Linked DNA regions of Homo sapiens: region 2 is linked to region 1. The links come from fine-mapping of genetic effects on gene expression. A gene starts in region 1. The other region holds a variant in brackets. All regions are shown on one strand. Distances are from middle to middle.

What was found. PIP is the estimated chance that this variant, and not a neighbour inherited with it, causes the effect. A credible set is the group of variants that fine-mapping cannot tell apart.
Region 2: its variant is the best candidate, but not a certain one, in a credible set for the expression of ASRGL1 in whole blood (TOPMed, PIP 0.72).

The regions. Positions count from the first base shown.
Region 1 is chr11:62,335,246-62,340,620 of GRCh38, forward strand. It overlaps ASRGL1 (asparaginase and isoaspartyl peptidase 1), which reads left to right and starts at 2,203. Exons shown (of 7, transcript NM_001083926.2): 1 at 2,203-2,329; 2 at 2,645-2,922. The coding sequence starts at 2,733. RefSeq lists an enhancer at 2,114-2,783.
Region 2 is chr11:62,404,803-62,410,177 of GRCh38, forward strand. It overlaps LOC102723765 (a long non-coding RNA gene), which reads right to left. Exons shown (of 4, transcript XR_007062699.1): 4 at 5,294-5,375. Among named protein-coding and RNA genes, the nearest start is that of SCGB1A1, 12 kb to the right of the region's middle. The variant T/C (reference allele first, on the strand shown) is at 2,120.

The DNA of each region.
Region 1 (5,375 bases):
TTCTTGCCAAGAGACCTTGATTTTATCCAGGGCCATGATGTACCCTGCTAAAATAAAAACTCAGACTCTCTTGCCACTAGGGGCAGCCCCCCAATCCAGTTCTGGCCAATAAAAGTCCACTTGGAGGACTTCTAGGAAAGCTAGAGAGCTTTCCTGAATTAAAGGAACAAAGGGGAGCTGGCAAAAGCCTTCTTCCCTTTGCCCTTCCCCATTCCTTCTGCCCCAATAGTGATCAAGGTGCCTAGGAGCACCATAAATGTGAAAGCCACATGCTGAAGGGAAGAGAAGGAGATGGGACATCTGTGTCACCTTGGAGCTGCTGCACCAGCCTGGGCAGCAACCACTAGATGTCTTGTTGTTGTTGTTGTTGTTGTTGTTGTTATTGTTGTTTTCAAATCAACAGTTATCTGGTTAAACCACTGTGGTCACGTTTCGTCAGGGACAGTTGAATACAATCCTTAATCCATAAAATGATTGTTGATGGAACATCGTCTACAGAGGAGTTAGCCAGATTCCTTCTCCTATCCCACAGAGCCGGACAAAAAGATGCTTCCTCTTTCCTCCTCAAAGACCAGAAGTTTATTTTCTAGAGAATTTATCTAAGAGACTTTGGATTGGGATGGGGAATACGAAGCCCATCAGAGAAGTAGATAAACGCATGAGGCTGAGATGGGAGGATCAAATGGAAACCAACATTCTACCTGCTTGGGCCACCAGCCACCTTCCCCAGCCTCAGCCAGATCACTGAATTCCAGATCAATCAGGAAAAACAGTAGAGATGGGGTTTGAGTTAGGGCTAGGCATAGGGTAGGGTTCAGGTTCCTATAAATAGCTGAAACCAAATGATGGTGAGCTGTATTATGATGACACAACTAGGCTCACGACCAGTTGAGACGTGCTAAAATAACCCTCTTCCAAGAGGTGAGTGTGGGAGACAGAATAACGGCCCTCAAAGGTGTCACATCCGAATCTCCACCTGTGAACACTCCTCACATGGCAAAAGGGACTTTGCAGATGAGAATAGAAATTGTAAGAAAGGGAGATTATCCTGGGTTATCTGGGTGGGCCCAATGTCATCCCAAGGGACTTCCTTTAAGAAGGAGGCAGGAGAGTCAGAGTCAGAAAAGAAAATCGTGATGATGGTGACAGAGAGAGAAGTGACGTAGCAGCAGAAACAGGCCAGAGGGAGAGAGAGTTAAAGATGCTAGGCTGTTGGCTTTGGCAATGGAGGATGAGGCCATGAGCCAAGGATACAGGCAGCTTGTAGAAGCAAGAAAAGACAGATTCTCTTCTGGAGCTTCCCGAAGGAACTCAACCCTGCAGACCCAGTTTGAATTTCTGACCACCAGAACTGTAAGATAATGTGTGTTGTTTGAAGCCAATAAATTTGTGGTAATCTCTAACAATAGGTCACTAGAAAGGGAATGACTGATCCTTAGTGGGGTGCCAGGGAGAAGGCTTTGCAGGAGGGGTTCATTTAAACTGGGCCTTAAGGCAGGAAACGAAGGTAAAACAGGAGTAAAGGGAATTCCCAAGAGTGGTAAAATATGTTATCAGTTGTGGGTAAACAAGAAGGGAAAGGACTCTCCTATCCACAGGAGATCAATCACAGTTTGCCTGGATCTGTCCCTGTTTATGCCCATTGTCCCAGTATAATTTTTTTTTCTTTTGATTCGGAGTTTCACTCTTGTTGCCCAGGCTGGAGTGCAATGGCGCGATTTCCACTCACCGCAACCTCCGCCTCCCAGGTTCAAACGATTCTCGTGCCTTAGCCTCCAGAGTAGCTGGGATTACAGGCATGCGCCACCACGCCCAGCTAATTTTGTGTTTTTAGTAGGGACAGGGTTTCTCCGTGTTGGTCAGGCTGGTCTCGAACTCCCGACCTCAGGTGATCCGTCCGCCTCGGCCTCTCAAAGTGCTGGGATTACAAGGCATGAGCCACTGCGCACAGCCTAGCGTTGCTTTTCAATCTGCAATTACAAAATCGTGGCATGCCACTTCACGCTTCTCGCCACCAACCCAACCACCCAGCCCCTAGCCTGGTCAGGAGCAGGAGGTTCCCCGCGTGCCACCAGGAAGCTCGGGCCGGCCAAGAGCGTAGACTCTTGAGAGGAGTGAGACAGGTGCGCGCCAGCCGGCCTTCGGGGCTTTATGGGAACTGGGCCGTGCGGCGGTCCCGCCCTCGTGCGCAGGCGCAGAACCGTTGTGACCAGAGCGGTTGCGGGCTGAGCGGTTTCGAGCCGGCGTCGGGGAGCGGCGGTACCGGGCGGCTGCGGGGCTGGCTCGACCCAGCTTGAGGTCTCGGCGTCCGCGTCCTGCGGTGCCCTGGGTAAGTCGGCGGCCCTCCCGGAGCAGCCGCCCGAGACGCGGGAGGGCGAATGAAATAAACGAAAATAGACATTTTCCCGAAGGCGAAATAGACATCCTCCTTCGGCGCCGGGGCTTGGAGGCGGGCGGCGGTGGGCGCGGGTTAACGTCCCCGGGGAAACTGAGACCCCCAGCAGGTCCGGGCCGGGGGCGGAGAGGAACGCGGGAGGGCGCCGGGCCCCTGGGCTTTTCGTACCAAGCTCGACCGAGCCGCCCCTACCCACCCCCAGCTGCGAACCCAGCCGTTCAGAACAGAGACTGGGCATTGTCCCCACAGGGTCTCCCGAGGACCTTGTACCCGCGCGGCTTCCTTGGGCTGGCTTTGGACGACGCTTTCGCCTTCCTGCTGCCTAGGATCCGCCGACATGAATCCCATCGTAGTGGTCCACGGCGGCGGAGCCGGTCCCATCTCCAAGGATCGGAAGGAGCGAGTGCACCAGGGCATGGTCAGAGCCGCCACCGTGGGCTACGGCATCCTCCGGGAGGGCGGGAGCGCCGTGGATGCCGTAGAGGGAGCTGTCGTCGCCCTGGAAGACGATCCCGAGTTCAACGCAGGTAAATGTGCCTTTCAGCTAGTAAATAATGTGAGTCAGGTCAAGCTCCTTCTTCAGAATAAATAGAACCTACATAGTGTTAGGGAATCTAATGAGCTTTGGGGTGAAACTAAGTATGTAAAAAAGAAACAATATTTAATTTTTCTACCTGTGCTGAAAAGAGTCAAACGCTAAAATATTTGTAGAGATTTATACTGAGGCAAATATGAGTGACCAATGGCCTCTGATACAGCTCTTGGGAAATCCTGAGAATGTGTGCTTCTGGAGAGACATAAGATGTCAATCAGTACATACAAGACATACATTGGTTCCATCTGGAGAGGTGAGACTACTGGGGGAGGGGGAGTGGTTTCCAGGTCATAGTTAAGATTCAAAGATTTTCTGATGAACAATTGATTTAAAGTTTTGTCCAAACACCTGGAATCCACAGAAGGGAATGTCTGGATTATATAAGGACTTGTGGCTGCAGATAGAATTAATAGAAGGCGGTTTAGCACGGTGGCTCACGCCTGTAATCCCAGCACTTTGGGAGGCCAAGGCGGGTGGATCACCTGAGGTCAGGAGTTCGAGACCAGCCTGGCTAACAGGTGAAAAGCCACCTCTACTAAAAATACAAAAGAAAAAAAAAAAAAGCCAGGCGTGGTGCTAGGAGCCTGTAACCCCAGCTACTCGGGAGGCCGAGGCAGGAGAATAGCTTGAACCTGAGAGGCAGAGGTTGCAGTGAGCCGAGATCACTCCAGCCTGGGCGACAGAGCGAGACTATCTCAAAAAAAAAAAAAAAAACTGAAAAAAGAAGGGAATGTCTGCATTAAGATAAGAGGTTGAGGAGACCAAGATTTCCCTTAGGCAGAGGAAGTCTCCAGGTAGCAGTCTATTGAGAGAATAAATTGTAAATGTTTCTTATCAGAGTTGATTCTCTCCTGAATCAGGAAAAAGGCCTAGAAAAGGAAGGGGATTCTCTTCAGAATGTAGATTTTCCCCACAAGAGATAGCTTTAGCTTTGCAGGACTATTTCAAGATATGGCGAAGAAACGTAATTTGGGGTAAAATACTTCACTTTCAGGGCTTGCTATCTGTCATGTGATGTCATACTAGAGTCCCGCTGGAATTTGGTATCTTATTGCTACAAAGTCTGCTTTGTCAGTCTTAAGATCTGTTTTAATGTTAGTGCTGGTCAGCTGGGCCTGAATTCCAAAAGGGAGGAGGGAATAATGAGGCATGTCCTACCTCCCCCGACAAGGTTCCAAAGTTTTCAGGTTAACTTTGGAGTGCAGAGTGTATTCCTTTGTGTTTCGCTTCTTTCACTCAGTCCACCCTTTTTTGGAATACTAATCATTATAGCTAATATGAGTATCTACCATGTATCAGGCAGTGGTCTAAGAAATTTGCTTGATTTATTGAATCTGAACATTAAATGAGTTGATCATGTAACTCTCTTAAGTTGGTTAACTTGTGTTAAACTAACTCAAGTTAACTCATAATGAACATTAAATGATTCACTTATGAGTTAATCACTTAAACTCAGTTGAGTTAAATGAGTTAGGTATAAGTTAGGCATAATTATTATCCTCATTTCTCAGATCAGACTAAGGCATAAACAGATTAACTTGGTGGAAGACATTCATCTCTTTGTTTTAAAATGGCAAACCTAAGATCTAGGCTAGAGATTGAAATACTTCCTGGAATTATACCACCCATCTGTCAGGGAAAAGAATTTCAGGAAATCTTAATTAATCATCAAATATTTACTCTTGTTCTGTCCCCTTTACGCAGCACTCTTTAACACTTGTGAAAAATTGTGTAATTCTTCCTGAGACCGGTGCAGTGGCTCACGCCTGTAATCCCAGCACTTTGGAAAGCTGAGGTGGGCGGATCACTTGAGCTCAGGAGTTCAATGCCAGGCTAGGCAACATGGCAAAACCCCATCTCTACAAAAAAAAAAAAATACAAAAATCAGCTGAGCGTGGTGGCACAAGCCTGTAGCCGCCGCTACTCAGGAAGCTGAGGTAGGAAGATTCCTTGAGCCCCAGGAGGTCAAGGCTGCAATGAGCCAAGACTGCGCCACTGCACTCCAGCCTGGGTGACAGAGTGAGACTCTGTCTCTGAAAATAAAATTAAGTTCATCTGAATTTAAAATGAGACCTAATAGTGTGCTTTCATGGCTCCATTTGTAGAGCCAGAATTTACCAGATAGGCACTGACTTTGCCAGCAGAGGGAGCAGCCAGCTCTTTCTGTGGGTGACTTGTTAAACCTTACGCTTCTTAGCACTCAGCACCCCCTGGGCTGTCAAACCCTCACTTATTTACACAGGACCTTCATTTGAAATGGGTCATTCTGGTTTCCGACCATCTCTTATTCTAACAATTTGTCATCTGCATGCATTGGGAAGCACAGATTAGGGAATTGGAGCAGCTAGTTCTCATTTTTTTGCTCTGTATCCAGAGGCCTTCCTT
Region 2 (5,375 bases), 70 kb after region 1:
GCGGCTGTAGGGTGAAAGGCTCAGAGCCCATCATCCATTCAATAAATATTTAATAAGCACCTACCAGGTAGCTGGGCCCTGGAGAATCGAAGGTGAGCATGCAGCTTACATTCTAGAGGGAGAGGTAGATAATTACACAAGGAAACACAGAAGCAAAATCATTTCAGACGGTGACAAAGGTGATGAAGGGAAGAAAGCCAGACCCTGGGATCCCAGGGGGTGGGGGAGGGTGCCCCACGGTAATCAGAGAAGACTTACCTATGATGAGAACAAGGTGCAATCAGGAAATAAACTGGAGGAGGCAGGGCAGGCAGAGGGGAAACGAGTGAAGGCCGGAGGTGCTCTGAGGGTGTCCCTTACCCTGGAGGTAAGGAGGCCAGTGTGGCCACAGGGTGCTAGAGGGATATGGCGGTAGTGACACAAAATGAGGCTGGAGAGACAGGTGGGAACAGGTCACATGAGGTCTGGAGTTTTATTCTAAGTGTTATGGGGAGCCAGGAAGAGTTTACACAGAGAAGGGACATGACCTGATTTACATTTTTAAAAGATCACTGGCTGGGCACGGTGGCTCACGCCTATAATCCCAGCACTTTGGGAGGCCAAGGCGGGCGGATCATGAGGTCAGGAGATCGAGACCATCCTGGCTAACAAGGTGAAACCCCGTCTCTGCTAAAAATACAAAAAATTAGCCGAGTGTGGTGGCGGGCGCCTGTAGTCCCAGCTACTCAGGAGGCTGAGGCAGGAGAATGGCATGAACCTGGGAGGCGGAGCTTGCAGTGAGCCGAGATGGTGTCACTGCACTCCAGCCTGGGTGACAGAGCGAGACTCCGTCTCAAAAAAAAAAAAAAACAAACAAACAAACAAAAAAAGATCACCGTGGTTGCTACGGGAGAACGGACTTCATGGGGCCACTGTGGATGGCAACCTTGACCTTGGACATGAATCCCCTGCTGAGCCAGAGGTAGCCCCCTCACCCAGGCCCGGGCCCCTCCCAGTACCCTGGGGAACAGGTTGCTTACACTTGCCCCTTGCCTGACCAGGGCATCTCCATTTCCAGCCCTTGGGGCTGGGGGATGCATGTTTTCCAGTTATCATATTTTCTGGCATTATGAATCCACCCAGGAAAGACCCACAAGTGATTTTAGAGGAAAGCAAATAGCAGCCAGTAGTGCTTGTTTTTCAGCTTTTATAAGCCCCACAGCTGCATCAAGTTCAGAGCATAAATGCATTGAACTGTGTTTGCTGGTAAGATGTTGCGTGCATTTACAGCTGAGCAATAAACGGCAGGGACAGAGCTATGCTCTGCAGCTCAGAACAGCAGGAAGACTCCTAGAGTGAGGACCCTAGGACCTGATACCATTTCTGGCTCTGCCCCTAACTCTCTATGCGACTTCCCATCAATTACAGCTCCTCTCTAGGCCTGAGATCTCTTCTCCAGAGCAGAGGGTGGAGTAGCTCTTCCCTACTTTCTCCCAGGCCAGTGACTAGAGGATAGAATTCCCAGGAGTTCAGATTTGGGGCAAGCCAGAGGCAGCTGCCGAGACCATCCAAGCTGTTCCTCTTGCACTGGCAAATTTTGGAAACATTAACCCATAGTATCTTTCCTCTTATTTTCCTTTCTTTTTCTTTTTTTTTTTTTTCTTTCTTCTGAGATGGAGTCGACTCGCTCTTGTTGCCCAGGTTGGAGTGCAGTGACACAGTCTCAGCTCACTGCAACCTCCACCTCCCGGGTTCAGGTGATTCTCCTGCCTCAGCCTCCCAAGTAGCTAGGATTACAGGCGCCCGCCACCATGCCCGGCTAATTTTTTGTGTATTTTTGGTAGAGATGGGATTTCATTATGTTGGTCAGGCTGGTCTTGAACTCCTGACCTCAGGTGATCCTCCCGCCTAGCCCTCCCAATGTGCTGTGGTTACAGGCATGAGCCACCAGGCCTGGCCTTATTTTCCTTTCTTCTCTTAGAACTTCCCCTGATTCTGGAAGCCAAGGCAGCCCCAGGGAAAGGCTGCTTTCCCCAGGGAAAGGATAGAGGAAGAGGGAGTCTTTTCCTGGCTGTACAGTTCAAAAGCCCAGTCCTTTGGAGGAATGGAAAGACCTGCAGGTGCTGGTTTTGTGTAAGAG[T/C]CAGGCTTCCAGAACCCCCACCCCACCCCCAGACAAGAAAAGGATTCCCAGGGTGGCCAGGAGGTAAAGAGCAAGAGTTACTAAGTGTTGGTCCCTGCTGAGACCAGTGACCTTCTGTAAAAGGCTTTAAAAACAATGATAAGGCTGGGAGCAGTGGCTCACACCTGTAATCCCAGCACTTTGGGAGGCTGAAGCGGGAGGATTGCTTGACCCCAGGAGTTTGAGACCAGCCTGGGCAACATGGTAAAACGCTGTCTCTACCAAAAAAAAAAAAAAAAAGCCAGGCATGGTGGCACATGCCCGTAGTCCCGGCAACTAGGGAGGCTGAGGTGGGAGGATTGCTTGAGCCCTGGAGGTTGAGGCTGCAGTGAACCATGATCACGCCACTGCACTCCAGCCTAGGCGACGAGCAAGACCCTGTCTCAAAATAATAATAATAATATATGCAAGCTAGAAATTAACATGTTTATTACTTATTTTTAAGTAGACATTATATTTGACATGGAAATTATTTCTCAGAACTCCCAGTTATACGGGTGATCCCCAACAGGTTCATTTGTCTTTTAAAAATACAGATTTATTTGTTTATATTGACAAGTAATAATTCTATATATTTATAGGGTACAATGCCATCATTTTGCCTACTCATTTTTTTGCCCAGCTAACTCAATTCATGAGTAAATTCATGAAGGTCTAAAATCCTTGGAGGCGGCTTCAGAGTTGGTTCTCATCTCAACTCCTCCTGGGTGCTACCCATGCCTGTGTGTAAACAGATTCAACATAAGCAGCAAAAGCACAGTGACTGCAAAGACCAAGAAGTAGAACTTGAGTTGCTTCAATTGTGTCCCTTTTTATTTTTTTTTCTTTTTTGAGACGGAGTCTCCCTCTGTCACCCAGGCTGGAGTTTAGTGGCATGATCTCAGCTCACTGCAACATTTGCCTCCCAGGTTCAAGCAATTCTCCTGCCTCAGCCTCCCAAAAAGCTGGGACTACAGGTGTGCACCACCACACCCAGCTAATTTTTGTAATTTTAGTAGAGACGGGATTTCGCTATGTTGGTCAGGCTGGTCTCGAACTCCTGACCTCAAGTGACCCACCCGCCTTAGCCTCCCAGAGTGCTGGGATTACAGGCGTGCGCCACCGCACCTGGACTCCAATTCTGTTCTTCTATGAGACCACTTAGAGTTTCTATGTGGGCTTAACATTCAAAATAATGGGCCGGGCGTGGTGGCTCATGCCTATAATCCCAGCACTTTGGGAGGCCAAGACGGGCGGATGACGAGGTCAGGAGATCGAGACCATCCTGGCTAACACGGTGAAACCCCGTCTCTACTAAAAATACAAAAAAATTAGCCAGGCGTGGTGGTGGGCACCCGGGAGGCAGAGCCTGCAGTGAGCTGAGATCGCGCCGCTGCACTCCAGCCTGCGGGACAGAGCGAGACTCCGTCTCAAAAAAAAAAAAAAAACACATTCAAAATAATGATAGAGTGTATGATATAATATTTGTTAAGAGAACATTTTAGTTCATACAGGAAATATTTTACTGTATTTTAATATCTTTACAGTTGAAATATTCCTTCCCAATGGTATTTGTTTTAGAACTAAAGAACAACTCAAAAAAGTAAAACATCACATCAATGGTACCATTTAGTAGTTGCCTAAATTTTACCTTTTATAGATTTTATAGACATTTTGGTTTCAAAAAAATTTACTTATTGGGTACTCGAGAATTTTTGTTTGTTTGTTTTTGTTTTTGTGTTTGAGACAGAGTCTCCCTGTTGTTGCCCAGGCTGGAGTGCAATGGCATGATCTCAGCTCACCACAACCTCCACCTCCTGGGTTCAAGCGATTCTCCTGCCTCAGCCTCCCAAGTAGCTGGGACTACAGACATGCGCCACCATGTCCGGCTAATTTTGTATTTTTAGTAGAGACAGGGTTTCTCCATGTTGGTCAGGCTGGTCTTGAACTCCTGACATCAGGTGATCCACCCGCCTCGGCTTCCCAAATTGCTGGGATTACAGGAGTGAGTCACCACACCTGGCGTTACTCAATAATTTACATAAAATATTACTATATCAGATGATAACCAAAATATCAAAATCTGGTTAGGTAAATATAAAAACTATTGGATAAATCAGCCAGGCACAGTGCTCATGACTGTAATCCCAGCACCTTGGGAGGCCAAAGCAGGAGGATTGCTGGAGTTCAGGAGTTCAAAACCAACCTGGGCAACATAGTGGGACCCCCATCTCCACAAAAAAAAAATTTTTTTTTCGAGACAGAGTCTCGCTCTGTCGCCCAGGCTGGAGTGCAGTGGCGCGATCTCAGCTCACTGCAAGCTCCGCCTCCCGGGTTCACGCCATTCTCCTGCCTCAGCCTCCTGAGTAGCTGGGATCACAGGCACCCGCCACCACACCCGGCTAAGTTTTGTATTTTTAGTAGAGATAGGGTTTCACTATGTTGGTCAGGCTGAAAAATTTTTTTTAAATAGCAGGGCATGGTGGCACTTGCCTGTGGTCCCAGCTACTCAGGAGGATCATTAAAAAATGATCCTCCCCAGGTGTCCAATTCTCCAGGTAAGCTACCAGAGAGACCAAGCCTTAGTGAGGTGGCAGAGCTCCTGAGTGGGTTTGAAGAGTCTGAGAACAGAGAGAAGAGCCCTCCAAGAACAGGCTGGGTATGGCAGCTCACGCCTGTAATCCCAACAATTTGGGAGGCTGAGGCAGGTGGATCACTTGAGGTCAGGAGTTCGAGACCAGCCTGGCCAACATGGTGAAACCCCATCTCTACTAAAAATACAAAAATTAGCCAGGCATGGTGGCGTGTGCCTGTAATCCCAGCTACTCGGGAGACTGAGGCAGGAGAATCGCTTGAACCCGGGAGGCGGAGGTTGCAGTGAGCCAATTTGGCACCACTGCAGTCCAGCCTAGGTGACAGAGTGAGTCTCTGTCTGAAGAAGGAGAAGGAGAAGAAGAAGAAGAAATGGGTGTGTGTGCTACACGGAGGCAGGTAGGCCACAGCAGTCTTCCCAGGCCCCAGCACAGCGTGGGAGCAGTAAGACTCCTGTGCACCCAGGAGTGGCTCCAAGGTGGCAGAGAAAGCCAGCGAGCTGGAGACATGCGAACAGTGCCAAGGACACACAGGAGCAGATGGCACGGCGGATAGCCAATGACAAGAGACAGGCTGACAGGTGACCTCAAGCACCAGAAATCCTGCCAACGCCGAGCCCCCTGGAAGTCAGGCACAGCCCCAGGGA